2 separate regions of the Homo sapiens genome follow, and region 1 is linked to region 2. The links come from fine-mapping of genetic effects on gene expression. A gene starts in region 2. The other region holds a variant in brackets. All regions are shown on one strand. Distances are from middle to middle. Region 1 overlaps USB1 (U6 snRNA biogenesis phosphodiesterase 1). Region 2 holds the start of SPMIP8 (sperm microtubule inner protein 8).

Region 1 (13,102 bases), 35 kb before region 2:
CCATGTCATTTGTTTCCCAGGGATTCAGGTTTGGGTGCCTCATCCTCCCCCTCTCCAGCATCTGTCCTGTCATTTCTGGAGTTCAGCGCCCTCTGTGCTCCCGCCCTGGAAATTCACCTGTAGTTCCTGCAGGCACTGCCCCTCCAGCTGGAGACGTGCATCACCCACACACCAGGCCAGGCTGAGGTGGAAAGAAGGATCCTGGGGAGGGAAACGAGAGGCAGGCAGTCACCCGGACGCCTTGGCAGGCCCTGCCCTCACAGCAGGTCTGTGACAGAGCTGTCGTGACATCCCTGCTGGATCCCTGGCCTGCCCAGTGGGAGACAAGATACTCAGTGTTGATCCCAAGCACCCTCCACAGACAGACAAAACAGCACAGGACTGGTCCTTGCTATGGACTGAATCGTGTCACCTCCCCCAAATTCATGTAGCCCTAACCCCCAATGTGATAGTATGTAAAGATGGGGCCTTTGAGGGGTAATTAGGGTTAGATGAGGTCATGAGGGCAGGACCCTCATGATTAGTGCCCTTTAATCACAGAGAGCTTGGGCACTGCTCTCTCTCTCTGTAGCCCCCAACCCCTGCCCCGCCATGTGAAGGCGGCCATCTATATGCCAGGAAGAACCCTCACCAGAAACCGACCACGCTTGGCCGGGTGCAGTGGCTCACACCTGTAATCCTAGCACTTTGAGAGGCCAAGGCAGGCAGATCACCTGAGGTCAGGAGTTTGAGACCAGCCTGGCCAACATGGTGAAACCCCGTCTCTACTAAAAATACAAAAATTAGCTGGGCGTGGTGTTGTACACATGTAGTCCCAGCCACTTGGGAGACTGAGGCAGAATTGCTTGAACCTGGGAGGCGGAGGTTGCAGGGAGCTGAGATTGCGCCACTGCACTCCAGCATGGGCGACAGAGTAAGACTCTGTCTCCAAAAAAAAAAAAAAAAAAAGACATCAACCATGCTGTCACCTTGATCTTGGACTTCTAGCCTCCAGAACTGTGCAAAAATAAATTTCTGTTATTTAGGCCACCCAGTCTATGGTATTTTGTTATGACAGCCTGAGCTAAGACAGTCGTATTCACAGAGGCTTTCCCTGAAGTATCAGAGGGTCATTACATCTGTGACATGAAAGAAAATCCACCCTCTATTCTGATCTAGGACATTCCAGTATACACCATACTTTTCAGATGACATGAACAAAATCCCCAAAGTCTCAAGTTTTGAAGCAACAATAATTGTCTCCATTCAAATTCATACTTATCTCCCTCAGCACGGTTTAAAAACATATATCAAATAAAATGAATGGCCCTTCAAAGCCCTGAGAGTCGACTTAGAGTCCAAGTGCCCTTGGAGGGCCTGGGCAAGGTGCAGGAAGGTGTGTGAAGCTACAACTCCTCTCTGAGGGTCAATCTGACCAAAAATTATTAGGGACATCTACTTAAAAAATGTGAAAACAACACGGGAACATTATGGAGCAGAAGGTACAAATCTCGGGCGTATTTAGGATATAAAGCAAAATTTCTAAGAAATGTTGGACTTTGGGTGGGCTGCATCTGACTACACCTCAAAGCCCTCACCCCCCGAGGTGTGCATCCTCAGAAGGCTGGCATTCAGAGCACCGACACGGGAGGTTCTGAAGGGTCTTCGGTTTGCCTCTTACGAGGGCTTCTTTAAAGACAGTTTTATTCTCATTAGAAATGGGTCAATGGAGAAGCAGCAGCCCCATTCATTACCTGGTAGAAAGTGGTGAGGTTGAATTCCTCCATGACTCTGTCCACCTCTGAAACCAGGTCCAGGAACTGGGCATGCCCTGAAGTGACCTCAAGCCCAATAAAGGTCCTGGGGAGAGGAAGACAACGCAGGCATGAGATGTAGCCTCTGAGAACACAGCCATCTGCGCAGCCGAGCAGGAGCCAGGCAGAAGGCCAAGAGGCCTGGGCCGTGGGTCTCACCGTCTCCCTGGTACACTCGCTTTCCTGCTCCATGAGCCAACTCTCTCAGTCCTCAGATTCTCTGTCTGTAAATCTTCCTTTCCCAGTTCTCACCCACACAGCTCTCCTCCCTTCTCTGGATCTAATAACCCTTCCAGGAACGCCTTCACCCACCACTGCCAAGTCACAAACCCAGAAGCTTCTGCACCCCCATTCTCCATCATCATTCCAATCGCAAATGACTCCTGTCCTCAAGGAGGCCTCTTCTCGAGGACTTTGCTCCCAGGCATCTGCCACGCCTCCCACAAGCACTCAGGCATGCTCTCTCATCTTTAAAAACTCTCCCCTGAACCCACGGTTTCAGCACGTCCCCATCCCATTCTCAGTGAAACTTCTCAAAAAGACCATTTGTCCACCATCACTATCTCTTTCTCACCTCCCATCTTCAACCCACTTTGCTGGGAGTCCTCTTGTCAAAGTTGCCAACAACCTCCACGTTACCAAATCCAAGGGACACTTCGCTGTCCGCCTCGTACGCACCCAGCAGTATCTCACACAGTGGACTCTTCCCTCCTTGAAACCCTTTTCTCTCTTGGCTCCCAAGACATCACCTGCCACGCAGTCTTGGTTTAATCCTGCCTCCTGTCTCCCGGTTCAGTGTCCTCTGCCACCCTCTCTCCTCTCCAGCCTCCCCGTGGTGAAGATCACTGGATCTTCTCCATCTGCACTCTCCAGGAGGCTGATCTCACCCAGCCCCGCTTCCCACACAGGCCAACACTGCCCACATTTCTATCTCCAGCTGGTCCCTCTCCTGAACACCCAGTTGTATATGTGACATTTCCACCTAGGGGTCCAATAGATAGCAAAACCTAGCAGGTACAAACAAACAGGTACAAAGCAGCACTTTTGCTTTTCATCCCACCAGTGTCTCTTATCACAGAAAACGGGGCCAGTTGTTCTAGCCTCAAACCCAGGAATCAATGTTCGTCTTCCCCTTGCTTCACATAAATCCAACCCATTGGTAATTTGGTTGCTTCTGCCTCTAGTGTATCTCCAATGTGTCCACCTCTTGGTCTTCCATGGCCATCACCCTAATCTAGGCCACCAATGGTCCCTCACCTGGACAATGACACCTGGCTCCTCTCTGGTTTCCCTGCATCCACTCTTGCTCCCTTCTATCTTGCCCCCAGACTCCATGGCCACAGACACACCACTAGCCAGACTGACATCCCCAGATATAGATCAGGTCATGCCTCTCCTCTGTTCAAATCCCTCCAATGGCTTCCATTATACTGAAAATTCAAACTCCTTACTTGAGCTTGCAGCCCCTGGATGGGCTAACCCTACCCATCTCATCTCCTATCATTCTCCCTCGTGCTTTCTGGGGTCTGCCTCACTGGCCTCCTCAAACATGCTGAAATCTTCCCTGCCTCGGAGTCACTTAGTTTGCTATGTCCTCTGCTTGAAGCTCTTGCAACAGCTCTTCCCAAGGCTGGCTTCTCATTCTCAGGTCACCATCAAATGCCATCTCCCTGGCCACTTCCCTGGTACCCTCCTGGACTACCCACTCCTGACCATATCACACCACAGTTATTAACAAACACTCTCATTACTTGTTTATTATCTGTCTCCCCTCTGAATATGAGATTGAAAAGAGCAGGGGCTGTGTCTACCTCTTCACTGATGAATCCTTAGTGTACAGCAAATGCCTGGCACAAGTGGGTGCTTAACAAACTTGTGCAGCATGGAATAAATGAATGAATAAATGAGGCCCCTTTCAGAAGTGCTCAGAGAAGGTGGCCCAGTGAGTGCATCAGACAGGGAGGCTCGCTTTGAAGGCAGGATAATCATTTCTTCTTATGTTCATCTAACACTTTAATACTTTTAACTTTTCAAAGGCCTTGGGGCTCATTTGAGCCTTACAACTGCCCAACAGTGGATGTTGGGAGGCGTGTGCCAGTGTGAAAATGAAAGGTCACAGAGATGAAGACACGGACTAAACACCACAACTGGGATGGAGCTGGGCAGAAACAGGTTTCCTGACTTTCACAGGTTTTCACTAAACCAAGATGCTTCTCTCAATCTCTGGGCACCACCCCACTACATGCTCCTCCAGTCATTATTTATTTATTTATTTATTTATTTATTTATTTATTTATTTTTGAGACAGAGTTTCACTCTTGTCACCCAGGATAGAGTGCAGTGGTGTGATCTTGGCTCACTGCAACCTCCTCCTCTAGGGTTCAAGCGATTCTCCTGCCTCAGCCTCTCGAGTAGCTGGGATTACAGGCGCCTGCCACCACACCCAGCTAATTTTTTGTATTTTTAGTGGAGATGGGGTTTCGCCATGTCAGGCAGGCTGGTCTCGAACTCCTGACCTCAGGTGATCTGCCCACCTTGGCCTCTCAAAGTGCTGGGATTACAAGCGTGAGCCACCGCACCTGGCCTTTTATTTTTTTGAGACAGGGTCTCACTCTGTTGCCCAGGCTGGAGTGCAGTGGTGCAATCTTGGCTCACTGCAGCCTCGACCTCCAGGGCTCAAGCGATCCTCCCATCTCAGCCTCCCAAGTAGCTGGAACTACAGGCACACACTACCATGCTCAGCTAATTTTTGTATTTTTCATAGAGACACGGTTTGGCCATGTTGCCCAGGCTGGTCTGGAACTCCTGAGCTCAAGCTATCCACCTGCTTCAGCCTCCCAAAGTGCTGGAATTACAGGCATGCGCTACTGTGCCTGGGATCTCCCAGTTATTTTTCTTAAAGAAAGGTTCAGATTTGGGGATAGCTGCCTTTATAGTCATAGAGTTGGTTAAAAGCAAACAAAAAATGGGACAAACAAGTCCAGAAACAAAGCACTCAATTTTTGCACCAAAGAATCTTCCTCTGATGGTGATTGGGGGTTGGGAGGACCCACCTGGTTTTCTCTTGATTGGTGTAAATCTTTACCTGGTTGGCAGTAAAGAAGAATCTGAAATTTAGAAGACCATATTTCAGGAAAAATCGTAAGAAAAAAAGCAGAAAAAATAGCTTATGTTAAAAAAAAACAGCACTTTGAAAATATAGTTAACTCATTTTGCACTTCATATTATCACCCCATTATGCAGGTGGTATACTGAACCTTAAACATTAGAGCTGGACAAGACCTTAAAATCACCCAGCCCGAGTAACACACAACATCATCCAGGTGCTAGTAAAAATTTTACTTTGTTAATAGCAGTTCATTTCGATAAACAATTTGAGACTATCTCAACTTCACTGATGGGAACTGAGAAAGCCTTATTGATCAAGTAGGTGATAATGGACCACTTAACAGCTGATTCATTTCTTGCAGTTTTTTAAAATAGATGACTCCGATTTCATCTAAGCAATCACGACAACATTTCTTCGTGTGTCAGGGCTGAGCTCAAGCCTTTGCACACTCTGTTTCTCGAATCCTCACACAACTCTGTGAGCAGGCCTACAATTATGCCCATTTTACAGACAAAGAAACAGAGGCATGGTGAAGCTGAATTTGGTGAGCCAGGATTGGAACAGTCAGTCTGCCTGTTTCCAGAGTCCTTGTTGTCACCTATGACGCTTTCGTGAGGGGAATAGGTCTGTTGGTGTGAAATCGAGACAGATGCCCCCACCCACCCACCCCTCAGATCAATAACACGGGAAGAGTCAGGCTCAGCTAGGTAAGTGCTTTGACTTGGACTGGTTCTGTCCTTTATTCTCTGAGACACTAGCAATCTCACCATGGAAAGTCTCCTCACAGAAACAGATCATTTTACAGCCCCCAGGCCAAGGGTCTCACCCCCATCTGAGGGAACATAATATACCAGCATGCTGGGTAGAGCCTCACAATCTGCCCAAGGGCAAAAGTCAGTCAGCCAACTCTCTGCCTCTGGAGAAAATGTAAGGGATCACAGAACCACCAGGAGCTTGGTTAAGTGCAGCTTTTAGGAAGAGTTCTCAAGGTGTCTCCCAAACATCCTGGAGTGGACACTGGATGTCTGTGCCCAACCAAAACTCCTTCTCCTGGTAACCTCGTGTTGCAGGATGGCTCTCCACCCCTACTCCAGAGGCAGGCTGCCCAGGCCTGGCCAAACAGAGCTTAGCATTTCCTCAGTCACAGCAACAGAATCAGGGGTGCACCGCCCACTCTTGGTCACCTTAGGCTCAACCAGATGATCAAAGTTGAACAGACCACACCTGCCCGGGCTTCACTCATGACACAGATCCTTTCCTCAGAGGGAACCAGCCCAGGGGTCCAGGTGCTGTTTTCTAGTCTCTCAGTGAGCAAGGGAACCAGCCACATATACATCCCACAGGGATCAGTATTTCTTGCAATGGACTTTAGGCAGAGTTTTCCTAAGTCCCAGCAAGGGACTCGTGCCCAGTTAAGGAACCACTGTATGCAGGGGAGCCCAGGCCGTGGCTTCCCTGGAGGGGTGCAGTTCATGCTGTCTTCCTAGCGCAAGTGCAGTGTGCCAGTCATCAGCACTAACATAGCCGCTCTCCTCCTTCATCCAGGGGCAGAGCTTCCGCAGGATAAGGGAAGCACTCTCTGTGGAAGGGGGAAGGGCCTGTTAACTCTTTACTCCCAAAGAAAGCACACAGGAGACGGGTCAGACCAGGCAGTCATTCCTGTGACTTGTGCTGAAGCCAATCAGAGAGGGAGGCTGTCTTTCCAGGCTGGTACACCATTAGCCGGGAGATGCGGTGGCTTCGTCATTGTGACAAAGGAAGGGGACAGAGCTGAGATGGTGAACAGTCTGCCTGTGGTGGTGACAGTCAGGTGCCATCTGATATCTTGTCACCCCGGTCCACTCATGCATGAGCCAGTGCTACCTCTGAATCTTTTAGTTATACCAGCCTATAAATTTCTCTTTGGTTTAAGCCACTTTGGGTTGGGCTTCTGGCATGGGCTTCTGGCACCTGTGGTTAAGAGAGTCCTGATAATATACAATCAATCAACTTGATAATGACAATCCAAAGAGGGGGAGGGCTGGACTAGGTTGAGAGATGAGTTTCAGCCCTTATTCCCTGGCCGAGTGTCTGGATTGGGACAAATCCTGTCCTCCTCTGGCCCTCAGAAGGGGTTCAGCTAACTGAGCAGTTTCCTAGTTGGGCAGTGACATCCTATGGAATTCCTGGGCCTATGGCCCCCTGAACTGTGGGAATGGGGCTTTGGCTAGAAGACTGTTTATTTCTGTTTTACACAGCCACACATCAGGCTTTTGTGCAACACCTCATTTGAAAAAAGGCTCTGCTGATAAAGGCAGGGTCAGAAAACCATCAGCCGGGTGGCTTCTTAGGCTCCTTCTAGTATCAACAGTAGAGGATCCAGAAAGATATTCTCTAGGCTCCCTCATTCCCGCACCATGACTCAACAAGCATCTATTTGATGTCTACTGTGAGCAGAGCACTTGGAAAAAAGCTGTGGGGCAATTCAGAGAGAAGCCACAGTCCTGGCCTGGAGGAATGTGGGCTCCAGGAAGGAAGATGGACACAGGAACGACTGCATATGAGGGTGAGTGAAATGACCACCAGGGGTAAAGAACCACAGGACCAACTGATCTCTGGATGGAGGGGTCACCTGTGAAACAACCACAGGGCCAACTGATCTCTGGACGGAGGTGTCACCTGTGAAACAACCACAGGACCGACTGATCTCTGGACAGAGGAGTCACCTGTGAAACAACCACAGGACCGACTGATCTCTGGACGGAGGGATTCTGCAGGATATGCCAACCGGGAGAGCCTCAGTGAAAGAGCAGGGTTTTGATCTGGACCAGTCTAGCAGGAGATGCATTTCTGGTAGGAAAAGAGTTATGAAATAATCTAATAGGTAAGGGGAAAAAAAAAGCCCCAGGCTGGCAGACAAAACCAGAAGTGGGGTCTGGTACTAACCCTTCACCCAAGTGGTGTGCTGAGGGCACCCATGATCTCCTTTCACCCCCATAGGCCCCCAGTGAGGTAGCTCCCACCATTACCATGACCTGTTTGACCTATCACTGTGAAATGATAACATATGTGTTGGTCTCAGCCTCCAGTTCCTGACACAGAGATCCTAAAACCTGTGTCATTTCCTAAGCAGCAGGGGTGCTAGGAGCATCTTTTGTTCTATTATCTGGTCTGTGATCCTGGCTCCTGACGCAGAGCTCCTAAATCCTTTGGAATTTCCTGGGTGACAGGGGCATCTTTGGTTCCAATGAGGCAATGAGGTCCTGGATGGGGGCTGATCACAGAAAGAGCAAGGCATGATTAGAAGCTGGGAACTTTCAGCCCCACCCCCTACCCTCCCGGTATGGGAGGGAAGCTAGAGACTGAGTTAATAATCCATCATGCCTATGTGATGAAGCCTCCGTAAAAATTTGGAACTACAGGGTTTGAGGAGCTTCCCTTGGTGATTAAGAACGCACCCATGTGCTGGGAGGGTGGCTCACTCCCAACTCCACAGGGTCAGAAGCTCCCATGCTCGGGACCCTTCCAGACCTCACCCTACCTATCTCTTCATCTGGCTGTTCATGTGTATCCTGTAACATATCCTTTGTAATAAACTGGCGCCCTAGTAAGTGGACTGTTTGCCTGAATTCTGTGAGCCATTCTAGCAAATGATCAAACCTGAGGAGAGGGTCCACAGAACCTCTGATTTGTAGTGAAATCAGACAGATGTTGTGGGTAACCTGAGAGCTCAACACTGCAGATGGTGTCTGACAAGGAGCGCAGTCTTGTGGGACTGAGTCCTTAACCTATGAAGTCTGCACTAACCCTGGGTTATTAGTGTCAGAATTGAGTTCGATTATAGGACACCCAGTGGGTGTCTGGAGAGTTGGATAATTTGTTGGTGTGGAAAAAAACTCAACACATCTGGTCACAGAAGTGCTGGAAGTACTGAGCAAGAGCTTACAGAAAAACAGCTGGCTTTTCCTACAGAGCAGATACGGCATCAGGGGTGTCAAGAGCTTCCACGGCATGCCCAAGGTCACGGAGGATGAGAAGTAGAGCAGGCAGCCCCAGGAGAGGGGCCGTGTTCTATCTTTAGGTCTGCCTGCCTGCTGGGGTAATGCCCGCAGTAGCTCAGGAGAGGAGGAGAAGCCATGGAGGGGAGGGAGTGGAGAGGCAGAGGGAAGAAGCACTCACCTGTGGAAGGAGGTCATACGGGCTTTCAGAGCCTGCACGAAGGGGAGGATCCAGTGGTGGCGCAGAACCACACTCTGGGACAGGCTGAGGTGGAACACCTTCATCCTTACCAGCCGGGGGACATATGTCTGGGCATGGGGCAGCAACACATCAAGCAGATCCAGGAACTCCTCCTTGGCTTCATCTGGAGGGGAGGAGTAAAGAGGGCGGGCCGTTCTCTCAGCCAAGGTGCCATGGCTGAATGAAGAAGCCCAGAAGGCAGAGGGAAGTCCTTATTACTCTGGGTTTGGGGAGAAAATTACTTGGACAGCAGCCTATGTCTATGTCTTCTAATATAATTTTATTTTCATTTATTTATTTATTTATTTATTATTATTTTTTTTTTTTTGAGAAGGAGTCTTGCTCTGCCGCCCAGGCTGGAGTGCAGTGGTGCAATCTCGGCTCACTGCAAGCTCCGTTTCCCGGGTTCATGCCATTCTCCTGCCTCAGCCTCCCGAGTAGCTGGGACTA[C/T]GGGCGCCCGCCACCACGCCTGGATAATATTTTTTTTTTGTATTTTTAGTAGAGACGGGGTTTCACCGTGTTAGCCAGGATGGTCTCGATCTCCTGACCTCGTGATCCGCCCGCCTCGGCCTCCCAAAGTGCTGGGATTACAGGCGTGAGCCACTGCGCCCAGCCTCCAGTTTTTCTTAACAAGGTCTACCCTCAGGAGAAACTTACTGAATTACAGCCTAACCTGAAAGTGTTTTATCAGACTCTTAACTGACCTAGGGGAAGTGAAATACCAAACTGCAGCACCTTCTGGTCATCCTGTCCCACCTAGGAAGGGGAAAATTCTGAGAAGCGTGTGGGAAGTTCCCAGTCCAGAGGAACCGGCTCACCAAAAGATTGACACCCAATCACAGGACTACAGAAGGATTCTTGTCCCCCACCACCTCACCACCACATTCATACAGGCCTGTTTACCACAGTTCCTTTTACATAGTACTTCATGTCCAGCTATCGAGGAAAAATTACAAGACATACTAAAGGGCAAAAATACAATCTGAAGAAAAATAGTAAGCATCAGAACCCCTTAAATATAAAAGACTAGAAACCATACAATGTCTGATCTCAGGCCACAATGAAATTAGACTAAAAGTCTGTAACAGAAATGTAGCTGGAAAATCCCCAAATACTTGGAGATTAAAAAACACACTTCTAAATAACACACGGATCAAAGAAGAAATCTCCAGAAAACTTTATAAATATTTTGAACAAAATAAAAATGAAAACATAACTTATCAAAACTTGTGGAATGCAGCAAAAGGTGCTTAGAAGAATATTTATAGCATCAAATGCATATATTAGAAAAGAAGATCTAGGCCGGGTATGGTGGCTCACGCCTGTAATTCCAGCACTTTGGGAGGCAGAGGCAGGTGGATCACTGGAGGTCAGGAGTTCGAGACCAGCCTGACCAATATGGTGACACCCCGTCTCTACTAAAAATACAAAAATAACTGGGCACGGTGGTGCGTGCCTATAGTCCTAGCTACTTGGGAGGCTGAGACAGGAGAACCACTTGAACCTGGGAGGCGGAAGTTGCAGTGAGCTGAGATTGCGCCACTGTACTCCAGCCTGGGTGACGGATCGAGGCTCCCTCACAAAAAAAAAAAAAAAAAAGAAAAAGAAAAAGATCTAAAGTCAATCATCTGAGTTTCATCTTAGGAAAGTAGAAAAACAACAGCAAATTTAATCCAAAGTAAGCAGAAGTAAAGAAATAATTAAAATTAGAGCAGAAATCAATAAAATTGAAGACAAGAAATCAATAAAGAAAATCAATAAAACCAAAAGCTGGTTGTTTGAAAAGATCAGTAAATCAACAAGTTTCTAGCCAGGCTAACTAAGAAAAATAGAGAGGGCACACAAATTACTAAAATCAGGAATGAAAGATGGGACATCATTACAGATCCCATGGATAATAAAAGGATAATCAAAGAATACCATGAATAACTTTATGTCCACAAATTTGATAACCTAGATGAACTGGAACAATTCCTTGAAAGACCCGATCTGCTAAAACTCACAAAAGAAGAAATAATCTAAATAGGCCTAAATCTATTAAACAAATTGAATTATTATTATTTTTTTTTTGAGACAGAGTCTCACTCTTTTGCCCAGGATGGAGTACGGTGGTGCAATCTTGGTTCACTGCAATCTCCGCCTCCCAGGTTCAAGCGATTCTCCTGCCTCAGTCTCCCGAGTAGCTGGGATTACAGGCACCCGCCACCAAGCATGGCTAATTTTTTTGTATTTTTTTAGTAAAGACAGGGTTTCACCATGTTGCCCAGGCTGGTCTCAAACTCAGGCAATCTGCCCGTGTTGGCCTCCCAAAGTGCTGGATGATAGGCGTAAGCCACTGCACCCAGCCTGAATAAATAAATAATTACCTTCCGGCTGGGCTCTGTGGCTCACACCTGTCATCCCAGCACTTTGGGAGGCCAAGGTGGGTGGTTCACCGGAGGTCAGGAGTTTGAGAACAGCCTGGCCAACATGGCGAAACTGTGTCTTTACTAAAAATACAAAAATTAGCCAGGCGTGGTGGTAGGTGCCTGTAATCCCAGCTACTCATGAGGCTGAGGCAGGAGAATAGCTTGAACCTGGGAGGCAGAGGTTGCAGTGAGCCGAGATCATGCCAGTGTGCTCCATCCTGGGCAACAGAGTGAGACTCTGTCTCCGAAAAACAAACAAACAAACAAACAAACAAAAATTACCTTCCAAAACAGAAGGCACCAGGCCCAGATGGGTTCGGTTCACTAGAGAATCCCACCAAACATTTAAGGAAAAAATTAAACCAATTATCTATAATCTTTCAGAAGACAAAAGCAGAGAGAATACTTCCTGACTTATTCCATGAGGCCAGCATTATCCTCATACCAATACCAGAAAAAGACATTACAAGAAAACTACAGACCCATATCTCTCATGGACAGAGATGCAAGATTTTCAAGAAAATATTAGCAAATTGAATACAACAACATATAAAGAGAATAATGCTCCACAACTAAATGGGATTTATCCCAGGTATTCAAAGCAGGCTCAACATTCAAAAATCAATTAATGTAATCCATCCAATCAATAGGCTAAAGGAGAAAAATCAAATGATCCTATCAATAAATACAGAAAAAGTATTTGACAAAATCCAATACCCATTCAAGATAAAAACTCTCAGAAAACTAGGAATAGAGGGGAACTTTGTTAACTTGATAGAGAATGTCTAAAAATACCTATAGCTAACTGATAGGAAACTCCAAAGCTTTCCCATTAAGATCAGGAACAAGGTAATGATGCCTCCTCTCACTATTGCTTTTCAACTCATACTGGAAGTCCTAGCTAATGCAATAAGGCAAGAAAAGGAAATAAAAGGTATACAGATTAGCAAAGAAGAAATAAGCCTGTTTTTCTTTTTTTTTTCCCCAAGACAGAGTCTTGCTCTGTTGCCCAGGCTGGAGTGCAGTGGTGCACTCTCCGCTCACTGCAACCTCCACCTCCCGGGTTCAAGCAATTCTCCTGCCTCAGCCTTCTAAGTAGCTGGGATTACAGGCATGTGCCACCATGCCCAGCTAATTTTTGTATTTTTAGTAGAGATGGGGGTTTCGCCATGTTGGCCAGGCTGGTCTTGAACTCCTGACCTTGTGATCTGCCCGCCTTGGCCTCCCAAAGTGCTGGGATTACAGGTGTGAGCCACTGTGTCCGTTTTTTTTTTTTGTTTTTTTTTTTTTTTGAAACGAGGTTTTGCTCTTGTTGACCAGGACGGAGTGCAATGGTGCAATCTTGGCTCACTGCAACCATTGCCTCCTGGGTTCAAGTGATTCTCCTACCTCAGCCTCCCAAGTAGCTGGGACTACAGGCATGTCCCACCACGGCTGGCTAATTTTGTATTTTTAGTAGAAATGGGGTTTCTCCATGTTGGTCAGGCTGGTCTTGAACTCCCAACCTCAGGTAATCTGTCCACCTTGACCTCCCAAAGTGCTGGGATTACAGGTGTGAGCCACCACACCCAGCG
Region 2 (12,122 bases):
CAAGGTGAAACCCTATCTCTACCAAAAATACGAAAAATTAGTTGAGTGTGGTGGCACGCGACTGTAGTCCCAGCTACTAGGGAGGCTAAGGCACGAGGATCACTGGAATCCAGGAGGTGGAGGTTGCAGTGAGCTGAGATTGCGCCACTGCACTCCAGCATGGGCAACAGAGCGAGACTCTCTTAAAAAATTTTTTTTTAATTTGACAACTTAAAAAAAATCTAAGATAAAATAGTATTCACATCTTACCTTTGCAACAGAATAAAACTCCAAAGATTCCAATGTAAAAAGTGAACATGGGCAAATTCTTTTATAATCTTGGGATGGGAAAGGCCTTAATAATTTTAATTAAAAATCCAGAAGCTTTAAAGAAAAGATTGATAAGTTAAATACATAAAAATAAACTTCTACATGGCAAAAACAAATGTCAAAAAACAAATGGAAAAAATATTTCCACTTATTTTACAGATATTAATATTAATTAATATTCCTTAATATTGAAAGAGTGCCTAGAAATCAAGCAAAACAAAAAATGCCAGGTATGGTGGCTCGAGCCTGTAGTCTCAGCTACTCAGGAAGCTGAGGCAGGAGGATTGCTTGAGCCCAGGAGTTTAAGGCTGCAAGTGAGCTGTGATCATGCCACTGCCCTCCAGCCTGGGTGGCATAGCGAGACCTTGTTTTTAATAAATAAATTAACAAGTTGAGGAATTTCTCTATACAAGAACTCCAAGGTGCAGATGGGTATATACAATATGCTACCATTTGCTTTAAAAAAAATTTTTTTTTGAGACAGAGTCTCGCTCTGTCGCCCAGGCTGGAGTACAGTGGCGCGGTCTCGGCTCACTGCAACCTCCGCCACCCAGGTTCAAGCGATTCTCACGCCTCAGCCTCCCGAGTAGCTGGGATTACAGGTGCGTGCTACCATGCCTGGCTAATTTTTGTATTTTTAGTAGAGATGGGGTTTCACCATGTTGGCCAGGCTGGTCTTGAACTCCTGACCTCAAGTGATCTGTCCACCTCAGCCTCCCAAAGTGCTGGGATTACAGGCGTGAGCCACTGCGCCCGGCCTACTGTTTGCTTTAAAATGGTAGACTAAACATAGACTGTTGGAAACAGAGAATATATATTCAGGTCATCACCTTAACCAAATAATCAAACTTAGCATCACAAATAATGTGATAATGAAATTCTGTGCCTCCTGCTGCAGCATTATGGCAAACACGGCATCTGTCGCCTGTGAAAGATTCTGGCCAGCAGTGTTTAACCTGGTGATTCAGATCTCTACACCTAGCTGCTGGTTTACAGAAAATAGATTAACAAGATAAGAAACACCATGAAGAAACAGTGGCTCAAATTCACCATATGGGACTGTCTACAACACAACTGTTAGAGACTTTAAAAAGTCAGTATGATGGTGGGCAATGGAAACTGGGTGGACTGTTTTAGACTAAGACAAAAGACATAACAAGTAACTGAAATACGTAATCCTAGATTGAATTCTTGTTCCAAAAAATCATTTTAAAGCCAGAAAAGACATCTTTGAGGGCAATTGGGGAGATTTTAATATGGTCTGGATATTAGATGTTGTAGAAGTATTGTTAGCTTTCCTAGGTGTGATAATGGTATTGTGTCATGTAGAAGGATGTTTTTGTCATTGGGAGCTGCTTGCTAAAGGGTGTCCAAGAATGTAAGAGAGAGGGCGAGAGAAGCAAAAATATGGCAAAAATCAACTGAAGCAGGAGGAAGGTGGTGGGTACTCATAGTAGTATTCTTTCAACTTTTCTCCATTTGAAAATGTTTATCATGTAAACTAAAAATAAAATCCTGAGGTCTCCGCAATGTATTGACTGAGCGGACCCCCCTCTTGGCTAAGGGGATCCCCCAAAACCTTGAAAAACTGAGTTCCCAGCCATAATGGGACAGGAGGTCAGACATGCTTCATTCCACCCCTGCCTTTTTGCGGTTTAGACACAATAAATGACCAGCATTAATGTTAAACTAGCAATCACAAGGCCAGGTGCGGTGGCTACGCCTGTAATCCCAGTGGTTTTGGAGGCCAATCACTTGAGGTCAGGATTTTGAGACCAGCCTGGCCAACATGGTGAAACCCCATGTCTACTAAAAATACAAAAATCAGCTGGGCGTAGTGGCACACGCCTGTAGTCCCAGCTAGCTACTCAGGAGGCTGAGGCAGGAGAATCACTTGAACCGGGGAGGCGGAAGTTGCAGTGAGCCGAGATAGCGCCACTGCACTCCAGCCTGGGTGACAGAGTGAGACTCTGTCTCAAAAAAAAAAAAAAAAAAAAAAAAAAAAGAGAAAGAGAGAGAGAGAGATTACAAGACTAAGAGAACAGACTCTTTGTGGCAATAAGATACCAAATTATAATAATAATAATAATAATTATTATTATAATAATAATAATTATTATTATTATTGAGACGGAGTGTCACTCTGTTGCCCAGGCTGGAGTGCAATGGCGCGATCTCGGCTCACTGCAACCTCCGCCTCCTGGGTTCAAGCAATTCTCCTGTCTCAGTCTCCCAGTAGCTGGGATTACAAGCACACACTACCACACCTGGCTAATTTTTGTATTTTTAGTAGAGACAGGGTTTTACCATATTGGTCAGGCTGGTTTTGAACTCCTGACCTCAGGCGATCCACTTGCCTTGGCCCCCCAAAGTGCTAGAATTACAGGCGTGAACCGCCACGCCCGGCCAAGATACCAGATTATTAACAGGACCTAAGGCCATGCCAGGCAAGGGTTAAGTCACGCACCCCTACACTTAAAGAATAAACTACAGGCTGGTCGTGGTAGCTCACGCCTGTAATTCCAACACTTCGGGAGGCTGAAGCTGGAGGATCACTTGAGCCCAGAAGTTGGAGACCAGCCCTGGCAACATAGTGTAACCCTGTCTCCACACAAAACAAACAAACAACAACAACAGCAACAAAAATAGCCTGGCATAGTGGTGTGTGCCTGTAGTCCCAGCTACTCAGGAGGCTGAAGTGGCAGGATCACCTGAACCTGGGAGGTCGAGGCTGTAAAGAGCCATGTTTTTGACATTGCACTCTAGCCTGGGTGATGGAGAGAAACTCTGTCTAAAAAAACAAAACAAAACAAAACGAAAAGCAAAACACAAAAATAAATAAGCTATGTTTTAATTGCCATGAGGTTTTTCTTTTTCTCTAGCCCTGGACTTGAGATAAGCAATATTAAAACAATTACAACTCATACAGCTCACAGATGCTGATGAACTGACCCCCTGATCCACCAGCCACAGCTATGCCTTTGATTGCATAAGAGGCTGATTTCAGTAACTTTCTCCAGGTAAGAAGACCACCAACCATGGACTGGTCCTGCCCAGCATACAGAGGCTGCTCACTTGCTGGGCTTCGCGTCCTGAAAAGAACTTTTGACGTATAGGGACTAATTGTAATACATTTAAAGGTTAAGTCTCCACCTCAAAGCGAACATGGGTTGTATGTTACATGCATGTTTGTTCAATATGCCCATGTCAGTACTATCTTCATGAATATTCATAGCTCCTCCTATAAACTATTGAATATGTATGTTTAGCCAACCCTTTGAACATAAAGCTCTTACCCAACCCCTCCTCCTTTGACATGCCTATCTTTGGGCTTAAGCTGGAGGCACACTTTCCAGCCTGTGGGATGGCCACCTGGCAGCTATAACCCCTTGTAAGAAATAAAGTCTCCTTTTCTAAACTTATACATTTATTTTTATTTTTTGAAGATGGAGTCTCGCTCTGTCACCCAGGCTGGAGTGCAGTGGCTCCATCTCGGCTCATCGCAACCTCCGCCTCCCGGGTTCAGGTGATTCTCCTGCCTCAGCCTGGGAGCTGGGATTACAGGCACCCGCCACCCCGCCCGGCTAATTTTTGTATTTTTAGTGAAGATGGGGTTTCACCATGTTGGCCAGGCTGGTCTCGAACTTCTGACCTCACGTGATCTGCCTGCCTTGGCCTCCCAAAGTGCTGAGATTGTGGGTGTGAGCCACCGTACCCTGCCTAAATTTACAAATTTCTGGGTTTTCAGTTAACAGTAATAAAAAGTTGGGGAGCAAAATAACATGTGTTTATATTCCCATTAGTAAACCAGGGAGAGACATCAGAAACTAAGAATGTGGTGGGGGGGTGGTTACCTGTATGCGGGGGCAGTGGGAGTGAGCCTTGTTGCTGTGCATATTGTTATAGCATTTTGAGCTTTGAAGTTCTGACTATTACTTTTACTTAAAGCATATGCTTACAATAAAATACATATCTACATCAGAGCTTTCCTTAAAAATCTAGATTCCTGGCTTCTCTCAGAAGCGGGAAATTGGAAGAACTGGTGACCTGGCTGGCCCCTCCAACATAGCACAGTCTGTGGGGAACCCCGTGGCTGCCGTTTAAATAGGGCAGGTGTGGGTGCCCCTTTTCCCTGTGGAGTGTTCCTTCCCCACGGCCTCCCCACCCACTTCCCTCACTTGTGTTTCCCATTAGGGCCCATGTGGCAACTCTGGTAATCTCCGTGCGGTCTCTGACACCCTCAGCCCACCTGTCACCCAAGCTGGAGCCTAGGTATGGGCCTGCACTCCCCCTGTTTGGCCTCCTACCCTGCCCCGCCTGCACCTACTCCTGTTGACTTTATCTGCTAAATACCTTCTAAATCCCTCCACACGCAAGCTCCTCAGTCCATGCGGGGTTATTCACTAGGCCCGTGGGGCTCTTTTGCCCTGAAGGCCCACACGTCTTCCTCTCCTGCATGGGGGCTGTGAGGAGAGGTCTTTCTCTCTCTTTTCCACATACAGAGATGCTTGGGCAGAAGTTACTACTGTTATGACTCCTACCACTGCACCTGTCAACCTCTGCCCAGTTCTCTCTCCATTAATTACAACAGGCTAGGCACAGTGGCTCATGCCTGTAATCTCAGCACTTTGGGAGGCCAAGGCAGGAGGATCGTTTGAACCCAGGAGTTGAGACCAGGCTAGGCAACATAGGGAGACCCTGTCTCTACAAATAATTTTTTAAAATCAGCAGGGCAGGGTGGCACGTATCTGTGGTCCCAGCTATTCGGGAGGCTGAGATGGGAGGATCATTTGAGCCTGGGAGGTCGAGGTTGCAGTGAGCTGTGATCATGCTACTGCACTCCAGCCTGGGCGACAGAGTAAGACACTGTCTTCAAAAAACAAAACAACAATAACAACAATGGCATCAGCAATACTTTTTGAGCACATATTATGTGCCAGGCACTACTCTAAGTGCTTTTTTTTTTGAGACGGAGACTCACTCTTGTTGCCCAGGCTGGAGTGCAGTGATGTGATCTCGGCTCACTGCAACCTCCGCCTCCCAGGTTTAAGCAATTCTCATGCCTCAGCCTCCCAAGTAGCTGGGATTACAGGTGCCTGCCACCACGCCTGGTTAAGTTTTGTATTTTTAGTAGAGATGGGGTTTCACCATGTTGACCAGGCTGGTCTCAAACTCCTGACCTCAGGTTATCAGCCTGCCTTGGCCTCCCAAAGTGCTGGGACTGCGCCCAGCCTCTAAGTGTTTTTTGTGCCTTATCTCCTTCTAACCCCACAACAACACTTTGAGGTAGGCCTTGTCAATTATCCTCATTGTACTGAGCAGTAAACAGAGGCTCAGACCTGGCCAAAGTGTCCTGGGCAGGGAGCAGCAGAGCTGGGACTGGCCTCTTTCATCCTTGCATCTGTCTCCCTCTTTCCTGAAACCATCTGCCCCTTCCCCAAAGGGGATCCTACACTGGTGTCCTAACCTTTGCGGCAGTAGGTGGTGGACTGGCAGTGCTCATCAGGAAGGCAGGCCTTGACGGTGTCCCTGTCCATGTGGCGCAGGGTGGGCAGGGCTGGGTGGTAGAGCTGCTGCTTCACGCCCGCCAGCTGGTTGCGCTGCCGCTCCATGGGAAGCAGGATGGCCGGGGAGGCATACACATGTGTGGAGCCATCGTCCCAGGGCACCAGGTCAATGATGCGGGCCATAGCTGGGGGGCAGAGGGTTCTAAGGGGCTCACCCTGGGCTCATGCTGGCCAGACACCCTTCTCTGCATGAAAACAACCTTGGCCAGTGCCGATGTCTACTTGCCAAACATTTATTTAGCACCTACTGTGTGCCAGGCCATTTTTCTGGAGCTCAGCATGAGGTGGCAGGAACATTCAGATAACAGAAGATAACAGAGACAACCCTCCCACTCCCCTTCCAACACACACATACACACACACACACACACACACACACTCACATTGTGCCATGGCTGTGAGGGAGGTCAGTACAGAGTGTGTGTTTCTGGGGAGGCTGGGGTTAGGACATTCAAGGAATGGTCTAAAAGAGGTGGTATTTGAGTCTATTCGTTTTTTTTTCTTTCTTTCTTTTCTTTTTTTTTTTTTTTTTGAGACAGTCTCACTCTTCTGCTCAGACTGAAGTACAGTGGCGCCATCTTGGCTCAATGCAACCTCTGTCTCCTGGGTTCAAGTGATTCTCCTGCCTCAGCCTCCTGAGGAACTGGGATTATAGGCATCCACCACCACATGTGACTAGTTTTTGTATTTTTAGTAGAGACGGGGTTTCACTGTGTTGGCCAGGCTGGTCTCGAACTCCTGACCTCAAGTGATCCACCCGCCTCAGCCTCTCAAAGTGCTGGGATTACAGGTGTGAGCCACCTTGCCTGGCGAGTCTATTCTTAAATAATAAGCAGGAAAGTGCAGCAGCAAGCGGGTTCAGAATGTAGCTTAGTATGCCGTATACCTCTGGGTGAATAATTATGGACTTGCCCTAGCTATTTACCCAAAATTCTACAGATTGACTCAGAAAGATTTTCAGGAAGGGGAGCAACATGATATATTTAAACTAGAAAAGCATTACTGGATACCCAGTGCCTCCCTTTAAAAAGCAGATAGTCCCAGGAGCCTTTCAGTCATTTACACTTTAGTGAGAATTTGTTGAGACAGCTTGCTTTCTTCCTGACCCTGAGTTAGAGGTGAGAGGTGGAGGTGGAAGCTAGGGTGGCAGGAGGAGAGAGGACCTTAGATCATGGAGGAGCAGGGAGGGGGCATGGTGACAAGGCATGGGGAAGCTGCCTTAGGGGATGTGACTGCCTGGGGAGGGACAGGGAGGGGGATCACGGATATGGGGAAGAGAGCAAGGGCTCCCTGCTTCTGACTCACCAATAGCAGCTACCTTATCTGTAGGGCCCAGGCCCAGGTGCACAGGCTTATAAGGACTTTCAGTTCTTTGACTGCTCAATGGGCAGAAGAGGAAGGGAGGTGGACGAGCCCTTATTATGGACAGCAGCAGAATAAAGGAACATTGTGCACAGACAATGCCCATTGCAGCCTGATTCTGAGGCACCCACTCCTTAGCAACCCTGGCAACTACAGGCTCTAACAAGAGCCTGTGCCAGAATTCCTGTGCTCTGGCCACTCCCTTCCAGCCTTCCTGAAGGCTGTGGTCTCCCAGGCCTTAGCACAGGCCAGGCATCTTGGGAAATGTCAGATGGGGAGCTGGGGTTCCCTGGAGGTAGTCAGGCCAAGGCAGGCCAGAAATGGCTACTGAGCCCACTGCAGGCTGTGTAATCCTGGGCTAATTACCGCCTCTCTCTGGGACTCAAGGCTCTCCTCTGTGTTAGGCAAGGACTCTAGGATCTGCCGTTAGGAGGATCTGGATGCTGAGAGGGATCTCCCCTCCCTGGAACCCTCAGGGAAGAGGGCACTGCACTGTCTGCCAGCCCTTGAGTCTCCAGGAGTGGAGATTAGCTGTGGCCAGTATCCAGGGTAAGCGTGAGGGGATCAGGGAGAGTGGTGGACTCAGCAGGCCAGGGATTAGCAGATGATACTCCACCCTCAGCCCCTGCAGGACTGCAGGCTCCCAGAAAAGCCAGGCTGTGAGTGCCCAAGGCCAGCACCCCAAAGCCCTGGGGCCTGCCCACCATCCTGGTCACAACCATTAGAGACAGACCCCCAAGGTGAGGAAACCCCAGGAGATCCTAACTTATTTGCATATATTGGCATGTGCTTTTGCATATACCTGCCCAGGGGCTGAACCTGATGGGTCTTGGAGCCCCTCCTGTGAAATTCTTGTAGGATTTGTTTCCCCAGTTGCTCCTCCTCCAGTGCTCCATACAGCTTCCAGAACAGCATTCCTAACTGCTACCCCTTACAAAAAACCTTCCCAGAGTTGACTCCACTCACCACCCCACCCCCAATTTATTTCTTGACTCTTTTAAAGTTATAAAATAGAAGAAATACAGAAAGTGAATAAATATCTAATGTAACTAATAATTTACAAAATGAGACCCCGTATAACTACCACCCACCCTGGTCAAGACATGGAGTACTACTTTTAAAACAGTTTATCAGTTTCTTAAAAAATGAAACAGAAATGTACCATATGATTGGGTCATCTGGAAGATTCTACCCCAGGAGGCTTCCCAAGAGAAATGAAAGTATATTGTGAGGCACGATGGCTCACACCTGTAATCCCAGCACTTTGGGAGGCTGAGGTGAGCAGATCACTTGAGGTTGGGAGTTTGAGACCAGCCTGGCCAACATGGTGAAAACCTGTCTCTACTGAAAACACAAAAATTAGCTGGGCGTGGTGGTGCAAGCCTGTAATCCCAGCTACTCAGGACGCTGAGGCAGGAGAATCGCTTGAACCTGGGAGGCGGAGGTTGCAGTGAGCCGAGATCGCAGCATCGCACTCCAGTCTGGGCGGCAAGAGCAAGACTTCGTCTCAAAAAAAAAAAAGTATATATCTTCACAAAGACTTGCACACAAATGTTCATAGCAACATGATGTATCGCCAAAAAGTGGAAACAACCTGTGTCCACTGATGAGTGGATAAACTGTGGTGCGTCTATACCATGCAATACTCTTGGGCAATGAAAAGAAATGAAGTTCTGATACAAGCTACGAGGTGGATGAACCTCATAAAACATTACGCTACATCAAAGAAGCCAGATGTGAAAACTCACATATTGTATGACCCATTTATATAAAATGTCCAGGAAAGACAAATCTATAGACGCAGAAAGCAGATGTGTGGTTGCCTGGGACTGGGGTGTACGAATGAAGAGTGGTTATCATCTGGTGTGAGGGGTCTTACTGGGGCAACGGGAATGTTCTAAAACCAGATGTGGCAAGAGTTGCACAGTTCAGTCAATGTGTTAAAAATCATGAGTTAGGCCGGGGCGGTGGCTCACGCCTGTAATTCCAGCCCTTTGGGAACCCCGAGTGGGTGGATTGCTTGAGCCCGGGAGTTCGAGACCAGCCTGGGAAACATGGCGAAACCCTGTCTCTACAAAAAATATGAAAATTAAATGGGCATGGTGGCATGTGCCTGTGGTCACAGCTACTTGGGAGGCTGAGGTGGGATAATCACTTCAGCTCAGAAGGTCGAGGCTGCGGTGAGCTATGATCACGCCACTGCACTCCAGCCTGGGTGATAGAGTGACACCCTGTCTTAAATAAATAAATAAATAATAAGTAATATAAAAGTCATTGAGTTGTATACTTACCATGGGTGAATTTTATGGCATATATATTCCCATAAGCTTGTTTTGAAAAATAGATGCCAGCCAAGTTAGTAAAAGAAAGCAAGACATTGGCCCTGCCAGTCCCTAGAAGCTTCCACATACACCTTCCCAATTACAACCCCCAACCCAGCAAGAAGGAACCACTCTCCCATCTTGTAGTACAACCTGTGCTTTTATTTATGGGCAACTATGGAAAACTTTATTTAACAACTCTAGGCTTTATAGAAAACTAGAGGTGGCAAATGTACTTGTGTTTGTAGCCATAGACAGGACAGACTAATTTTGCCTTTTGGGAATTTTGTATGCATGGATCACTGGGGTCTTCTTTTGAATCTGGCTTCTTTCTCTCCATATATATGCACATGAGTTTCATCCAAACTTTAGCCACTGTGTGTGGCTGTGTTTTGCTCATTTTCCCCACCCTAGAGCCCACTACTGTTCCCTCAGGCTCATCTAATTTTCCCTCCTTCCCACTCTGCAGGGGCTCCAACTGCCTCTAAGTTGCCCAATCTCAGGACGCATTTCAAGTCTCAGCTCAGACAGTGGCCCCTTGGATCATTCCCTCACCCCAACACAGCCACTACTCTTGGCTTTCACCTCACCCCATGCTTCTGCTTCTCCATCCCCATCCCTGGCAGCTCCTTCAGGCTCCTTTACCAGCTCCTGCTCTTTTTGCATCCTCTGAGTGAGCCCGTGTTCCAGGTGCCACCTCTGGTCATCTTTGTTTCCTTGGGTTTCCGAGGTGATATCAGTCAGTCCTGTGGCTTTAAGCATCATCTGCAAGCTGAGGCCTCCAAAATTTCTATCTCCTGTAGACCTCTCCCTAAGTCTCACACACACACACACACACACACACACACACACACACATTTCAACCTGGATGTCTCTCAGACTTTTTTTTTTTTTTGCTTAGGCTGGAGTGCAGTGGTGTGATCTTGGCTCACTGCAACATCCACCCACCGGGTTCAGGCAATTCTCCTGCCTCAGCCTCCAGAGCAGCTGGGATTATAGGCACCTGCCACCACACCCGACTAATTTTTGTATTTTTAGTAGAGACGGAGTTTTGCCATGTTGGCCAGGCTGGTCTTGAACTCCTGACCTCAGGTGATCCACCTGCTTTGGCCTCCCAAAGTGCTAGGATTACAGGCGTGAGCCACTGCACCCAGCCTCTCTCAGACATCTTAACAAAGTAGTGCTCATGATTTTCCCTCCAAAATTCTTCCTCCAAACTTCCAGCCTCAGGCTTCTTCTTTTCAGTACATGTGTAAACCAGCCTGGGGCGGTTTACTGGTTCACCCACTAAACCAGCTACCCAGTTTCCCAGGGTGAGCCCCTCAATGCCCGCCTTTTTCCTCCCCTTTCCCTTCTATCTGTACTCCCACCAGCATAGTCCAAGCCCCATCATCCCTCCCGTCAGGCTGCAGGCAAGGGCGAATGTCACCTGTGTTAGTCTCAGGCCCAAGCAGAGCAGAAGGGCTTGCTGCTGTTCCTTGGGGAGGAGCTCTGACCCCTGCAGCCTGGCATATTTGTAGGGAAGGGTCAGGGAGTACATTGAGCTTTACCGTTGGGGTCTGGCCTTGCTGGCAGAAAGAACTTTCTTGTGAATCACTTGCCATGTAGAGGTTGCATTATCAGAGGTCTTGAAGCCCAACACTGGAGGGGAAGCCAGGGGTCATCCAGTCACCAATCAGCTTGTCCCTCCGCAGCCTCCTGACCAGTTTCCTGTTTCCATGCTTGCCTGCTACACAGAGCCACACAGATCATGCCCAGCCCCTGTTCAAAACCATCATCTAAAACTACACTCCTTCCTGTGGCTTACAGTCTCACAACATCTGCCCCTGCCCTCTGTCAACCTCATCTCCCACCACTCTCCCCTGCACCCGTTAAGCTCCAGGCTCCCCGGTTCCCATTCTGCTCCTCAAGGCTCATTCCAGCCTCAGAACCTTTCTCGTTGCAGTGTCCTTGGCCTGGAGCACCACTCACCCAGCTTTTTTCACAGCTGAGTCTTTCTTACTTTTCATGTCTCAGTTCAAATATACATCCACCTCGTCATAGGGGCCTGCCTACCTGCCCCTACTGCCCTCCACAACATGCTTCTGCCCTGTTTGTTTCTTTTATGGCACTTAGCATAATTTGCAATATTCTTTATTTGTCAGTAATCTCCTCCATTGGAATGTAAGCTCCATGAGGACAGGGCCTATGTCTGTCTTGCTCAGTGTGCCAAGGCTGGCACACTGCCAGGCACAAAGGAAGAGCTCTAGGCCAGGTGCAGGGGCTTACATCTGTAATCCCAATACTATGAGAGGCTGAGGCAGGAGGATTGCTTGCATCCAGGAGTTTGAGAGGTTGAGGCTGCAATGAGCTGTGATTGCACCACTTCACTTAGCCTGAGTGACAGAGAGAGACTGTGGCTTAAAAAAAAAAAAAAAAAAAGGAAAGGAAAGGAAAGGAAGAACTCTAGAAATGGTGCGGATAATTAAGTCAAGTCCTGCCCTTTGCCAAATATCCCTCAGGGCCACCACACTGAGCCCCTCTTCCTTGGGCCCTGTCCCTTGCACCCTCTCCTCCTAGATCT

The links. PIP is the estimated chance that this variant, and not a neighbour inherited with it, causes the effect. A credible set is the group of variants that fine-mapping cannot tell apart.
Region 1: its variant is the best candidate, but not a certain one, in a credible set for the expression of SPMIP8 in tibial nerve (GTEx, PIP 0.85).

The regions. Positions count from the first base shown.
Region 1 is chr16:58,006,071-58,019,172 of GRCh38, reverse strand. It overlaps USB1 (U6 snRNA biogenesis phosphodiesterase 1), which reads right to left. Exons shown (of 7, transcript NM_024598.4): 3 at 9,061-9,244; 4 at 4,847-4,900; 5 at 1,734-1,839; 6 at 118-201. Among named protein-coding and RNA genes, the nearest start is that of USB1, 11 kb to the right of the region's middle. RefSeq lists enhancers at 5,898-6,429, 6,430-6,962. The variant C/T (reference allele first, on the strand shown) is at 9,571.
Region 2 is chr16:57,971,694-57,983,815 of GRCh38, reverse strand. It overlaps SPMIP8 (sperm microtubule inner protein 8), which reads right to left and starts at 7,272. Exons shown (of 8, transcript NM_199456.3): 1 at 7,182-7,272; 2 at 5,777-6,001. The coding sequence starts at 5,999.